Linked DNA regions of Homo sapiens: region 1 is linked to region 2. Evidence: fine-mapped expression QTL. A gene starts in region 2. The other region holds a variant in brackets. All regions are shown on one strand. Distances are between the middles of the regions.

The links.
Region 1: its variant is fine-mapped to the expression of UBE2E2 in skin (TwinsUK, PIP 0.92).

Annotation. Positions count from the first base shown.
Region 1 is chr3:23,112,047-23,114,956 of GRCh38, forward strand. No RefSeq gene overlaps it. Among named protein-coding and RNA genes, the nearest start is that of UBE2E2-DT, 89 kb to the right of the region's middle. The variant G/C (reference allele first, on the strand shown) is at 1,628.
Region 2 is chr3:23,201,868-23,204,777 of GRCh38, forward strand. UBE2E2 (ubiquitin conjugating enzyme E2 E2) reads left to right here and starts at 1,460. Exons shown (of 6, transcript NM_152653.4): 1 at 1,460-1,597. It overlaps UBE2E2-DT (UBE2E2 divergent transcript), which reads right to left and starts at 1,126. Exons shown (of 2, transcript NR_136176.1): 1 at 997-1,126. RefSeq lists enhancers at 133-1,108, 521-580 and a silencer at 931-1,620.

The sequences.
Region 1 (2,910 bases), 90 kb before region 2:
ACATAATCTGAGGACTATTGGGAAGTCCCATGGATAAAAATACCTCTACTAGATTTTCACCACTAAAGCCAAGTTAGTATAACACGCTAACCAAGACTTTAATTGCTCCTATCTAAATAATCATTTATGAGCCCACCTGGAATTTTGATCTATGGAACTGTGTGATATAATAAATGAGTGTTCTTATAAGCCACTAAGTTTGAAATAATTTGCTACATAGCATTAGAAAAGAAATAAAATATAGTATACATCATGTAAACATTTTAAAAATACACAAAACTGATATCATATATGTTAGGGAATCAGCAAACTGCACCCCCCGGGTATATCAAGCCCATGTCTTGTTTTTTACAGCTCATAAACTAAGATCAGTTTTCACATTTTTAAAGGTTTGTAAAAATTGAAAAAGAAGAATATAGGACAGAGACTGTATGTCATTCACAAAAACTAAAATATGTATTATTGTGCCTTTTACAGAAAAAGTTTGTTGACTCTGCTACATACTGTCTGCTATAGTTTCAGGATGCTGGCTGTGCTGGATGTCTTACACTTGTCCCCTCTGGGTCCATTTCCCAACTTCCTCCTTGCCCAGGCCTGTATGGACTATGTCAGCTGCCTTCTGGCTCCTGGTTGGGTGTGGCCAGTAGGGGCAGGGCCAGGAGACTAAAGGACAGAGGAGAATGAGACTGGGGTGTTGATTTGCCAGCTCCCTCCCTGCAGTGCAGCCTGAGGCAGGTTGTGTCCCTCAACCAAAGGACACAGATCCTGTGAAGACTGCCCACTCTGTGCCATTGTCTCCTCTGGAATCCAGTAACTCTTCTCTCCCTTCTCCCGTTTAGGCCTAGGGGTATTAGCACTCGGATACCCACTGCGATTTCCCTACATTCTGCCCACACCTGTGTAAATGGCATTTTTAATGAATACTCCTCCAAATTATTCACCTCAAGTGTGACATCTGCTCCCCACCAGGATCCTGACTGAAACACCCACAAAATTAATTATAGTGGTTACTTTGGGTGAGAGAGGAAAAAGAACAAGGGATGAGAAACAGAAAGCTTCAACTTGATCTTTAATGCTGGCTCTCTTTCATTTATGGAAGGACTAGAAACAAATATGACAAACTCTTAATAATGGCTGATTCTGGATGGCAAAAACAAAGATCTATCTGGTTTGTTCAGGCATATATATATATATATATATATATATATATATATATATTTACTCTCTCAAAATTAAAAGACTTTCTCAGCCACATTGATTACTGTTTAAGACTACCAGAATCATCTATCTATTAATAAATTAATAAATTCAAATCATAGAGTCTGCCTGACCAGCCCCAGTCTTGCCTGGTTGGCAGGTGAATCTCCTAACTAGTTGCTTTCTTATCACAACTTGTAACAGTCAAATTCCCACTGGCCTTTATGCTCATCACCACCCGAGGCATGAAGCCGCAAAAGCAACACAGCCCAACTGACTCGGTAGCCTGGCGGTCAGCACTTCTCCCAGATGCACTGTTCCATGGCTCCCCTTCTCCCCCGGACCTCCTTTAGTGGGCTCTCTGTGTTGTTTTCGGAATGAAGTAATAAACCGTCACTGCCAGTACTTATAAAATGTTCTGGCTTTATGG[G/C]ACAGCATCTCCTGCTGCTTTGGGCACAAGTCCAGTTTAAGCAAAGAATCTGGAAGGAGAGCAAAAAGAGTTTTCTAACCATTGCACTAAGGATGGTAGAAAAGAAAAATTAGATTCATGGCAAAAAAAGAAAAAAAGCTCATCTTCAGGACAAATACCAAAAAATGGGACTACTAGCCTGGATCTGACTAAATGAAGTTATAAACATGAAATCCTTGGATTAATCATGAAAGTTTTACATGGGTTAGAAGACACTCCTCCAACACAAACAGCCACAAAAGGCTATGTCATCACTACACCCAAGATGATGAAATACCTGTTCATCACTTCATAGTCATCCTTTCCTTTATATAATCTACTCTGCTCATCTGAATTCTGACTTTTAGGGAAGTGCCTTTTGTGAGTTATGTATGCTCAGTGGTTTTACGTGTACTTCATTTTTTACCAGCTGTGACAAGATTCTTAATCTTCATACAAGAAAAGCCAAGCCCGTGCAAGAACAACCTGTCAGGGATACTTACAGCCTTGTAGTTAACTCTCTCCTGAGTGTGATTTAATCAGCAAGGTACTGCTGACAATGTGTAATAGAACATTGTAAAAGCTACAGGTTAATACCTCCGAGGGTGCCAAAGGAGATGCCATAAAGGATATGGCAGTGAAATGAAAAAATGATTATTATTTAGCATTTATTAATCCTAGGTGGTATGCTAAACTCTAAAGAACATAGCATAGACAGAAGCAGATTGCCTCTGAAGTTCTGTGCTTTCCTCAACAAAAATGGAAGAGACTCTTACAACATTATCTCTAAATGATAATATGAAGTAGAAACAGCTTGAATCCATGGACAATGGCAGAAAAATACCAAAATAAAAGCCAAAAGGATTTTTGATGTGTATGTCCTCCAACCACAATCTGCTTTCATACACAGCACAATCTTGTGTATCTACCAGGAGTCGACAAACTACAGCCTATGGGTTCACCACCTGTTTTTGTAAAGTTTCGTTGGAACACAGCCACATCCATTTGTCTACAAATTGTCTGTGGCTGCTTTTGTTCTACAACAAGAGTTGAGTACTTATGACAGAGACCATATGGCCAGCAAAGCCAAAAATATTACTACTTGGCCCTTTGCAGAAAAGGCTTACTGACCCCTGGTGTTGTTTGAATGGGAGAAAACATGATCTAGACTTATGATTGTCTTGATAGAGTTACTTATCAATGTATTAATTTACAAGTATTCATTCAAAATTAAAATTCAATCTAGCTTCATGAGGCATATATAA
Region 2 (2,910 bases):
AGGATTTTTTTCTTTTATTCAATGTCATATATCTACCACCTAGACAGTGCCTGGTATCAATAAATATTCCTTGAATAAATGAAAAGGGTAACTGATTTGTATTAAACCCATTTTGAACTTAGTAAATAGCAGTTAAAACATCTACAGTCAAATGAAGTACTGTAGCAACCATAATTTCAGCAATTAAGCAGTGAAAGATCTTCCAATCCTTTCCTCCACAAAGATAGAAGTTAATTTTGCTGCATCCCTGGACACCCCGTTGCCAACGACCCAGCATTCCGTTGGTAAGTGAGGCTGGAGGTTGGAGTGGGAGAAATTTCGTGGAAGCTAAGTTCGCAAAGCAGGTACGTTTTTTTTTTTTTTTTAAACGGTTATTTGGGATGAGGAGTACAACGGAACCTAATGTTCCCTCATGCCACCTACAGCACTGCTACTGTTCCCATATCCTTCAACTGGGCATGAAGGCAGCTTCCCACTCACTCTGACAGTGGTGCACCCTGTACCCCCACCCCTCTCTTCAATACCCCAGGGCTAAACGGCCCGAAGCTCCTCTCTACCGGCTGGTGCGCATTCTGGGCCAGGGCGAGCCAAAAGGCAGAAGGGCCTTCGTGCTGCAGTGTCTGGTGAAGACTCAGGCTTAGCCTGGAAGAAGTTTCCAGGCCAACGTGAAGTTTTCCTGTCTTGGGTACATGCGAGCCCCACGCGTCTGCGAGTTTGGGTTAGTGTGTCAACAGGGTCAGTCCCCGTATCTACTTTGCGAAAGCTTCGAGGCGAGCGTGAAGTCAAGGGCTGCGGTGGATGGGGGTAAAAGGCCTCCTCGTCCCACTGCCTGCACCGTCTTGGGGTAACCCCTAACCCCCAGCCGGCGTTTCCCTTTAATGCGCGTGCCCGGCAAGGTCCTCGCGTCCCCTCCCCTCAAGCCACCCCGTCAGCCTCGGTTTCCCCCACTTCTCCCCGTCCTTGTCGTTCCTTCCCCGTGGGACGCCCCTCGCTCACCCCCGTCAGAGCCCAGTCTGCGCGCGGGACCCAGCTGTCACTTTACTTTTCCTCGCCGCCTCCCCACCCCCTCTCCCGACCGGCGGGGCAGCCCGCCCGGGCGCGCTCCCGCCCCCGCCCCCTCGCGGCCGCGCGCCGGAGGAGGAGGGGCGGGGGGAGGAGGGAGGCGCGCGGCGCCGCATGGCCGACGTGGGGCTCGCGCTCTCGCGGTCTCTCCCGGGCGGGCGCGCAGGCACGCGCACTCGCGGGTGCGCGCGCGGACGGCCGGGCGGCGGCGGCTCCCGGAGGTGGTGGCTTCACTTTCCAGGACTCAGGGGCAGCCACAGCGACAGCCGCGGGCAGCAGCCTCAGGAGCCGGAGCTGGAACGGCCGGGGGCGGCGGCAGCGGCGGCGCTGAGGGTGAGTCCGGGCGGGCGCGAGCGCGGCGGGGACAGGCGTGGTCGGGTGCGTGGTGCGTGGGTCCGGCTTTCGGTGACTAGACGGTCCGCAGGGGACATCCCGTCCCTGGGGCCTCCCCAGTCTCCCTCCCCCTCGCGCCTGGGCAGCTCTCTCCCAGGGCTTCGGCTCGAGCCTGCGACCTGCACGGACACCCCCCCCTCAGGTATTCGCTCGGGCCGCGCCGGTGCCTCCCCTCCTCGGGCGTCCTCCCTCTCGCTGACGTCCTCCTCACTCCCCCGACCTCCCCTCCGCGTCGCAGGTCTCTGCTTACACCGCTCGTGCCCTAGTTCCCTCCTTCCTCGCTCCCCGTGCCCGGTTCCCTACGCCCCCTCCCGCGAGCCTCCTGCCCCCGTTTCTCGCCCTTTCTACCCCTCCCCCTTCTTCCCATCCCCCCCTTCTGCCTCTTCTCTCCCTGTCCTCCTTCTACCCCCTTCCGTTCTCAGTTCCCCATCCTTCTCAACCCTCCCAGCGCTTTCCTTCTCCTAGCCGCATCCTGGAACTAAGTCTTTTCAAAAGTACAGGATAAATGTCACGGTGGAAAGTGCCCGGCTTGATCTTTTGCTATTTTCCCTAATTGCATAATTGCTGCACATGGTGTGTCTCCTGGCGAGTGCCGGGTTTGGCTCCTTCGCCGCCGCACCCCGGTGGCCCGCCCGGAGAAGACCTTGTGGGGTATATTTGTGTGTGTCCTGGTGAGGGGTGTGTGTTGTATTGGTCTTTTGTGATGCCTGGCGCTTGTCACAGTTTGGAACCGAAGCCCATTTTTCTCTGGTCTCTTCTCTGCAGCCCCCACTGGCCTGGTTTGAAACTGGATTCCCTCTGTCCTCTCCCCCTTCCCGCCCACCCCACTTCTCCCCCTCTTTTCTCCGATCTCTCTCATAATGTTTTGATCTTTTTGCCCTTTACCATTTCTAATGAAGATAAAGCGTGGCTTCTTGTGGCTTTTTTCCCCCACGACCAACCAGAAATGTCCAATCCATCTTCCCTTAAGGAAATTAAGGCTGCTTTAGAAAGACATCATCCTGTGCTCGGTGGCTGTTAGACCCATTTGCATGTTTTCAAGATTCATCGTTTTGTATTGTGTATTCTTGAGAGTCTACTAAAATATTTTTATTTAAAAGTACGAAAGGAAGTGCTAGGGTTTACCCTCAAAGTATCTCGCGGTTCTAAAGGATTTTACGCTCTTCTTAGTTTTTAATCCCTGATTTCTTTAAAAAGTATGTTTCTAGATATGTGATAATTCAGTCTGGACTTTGTGAATCTAAATATTTGCCTTTACTACGGCAATTTGGATGCTCCTTGGCTCTTTGGAATTCTGTATGTGGGCTGACGCTGAAATAGAGTGTTTTCATATAATGCCATACCCCATTCTCTTTCCCCTGCAGCACCTTTTACCCCCAAATCAGGTGTTCCACTGTTATTTTCTGCATAAATGTCTTTGCAGTTAAATTTAAAGCTGGATATTGCTGTGTGCAT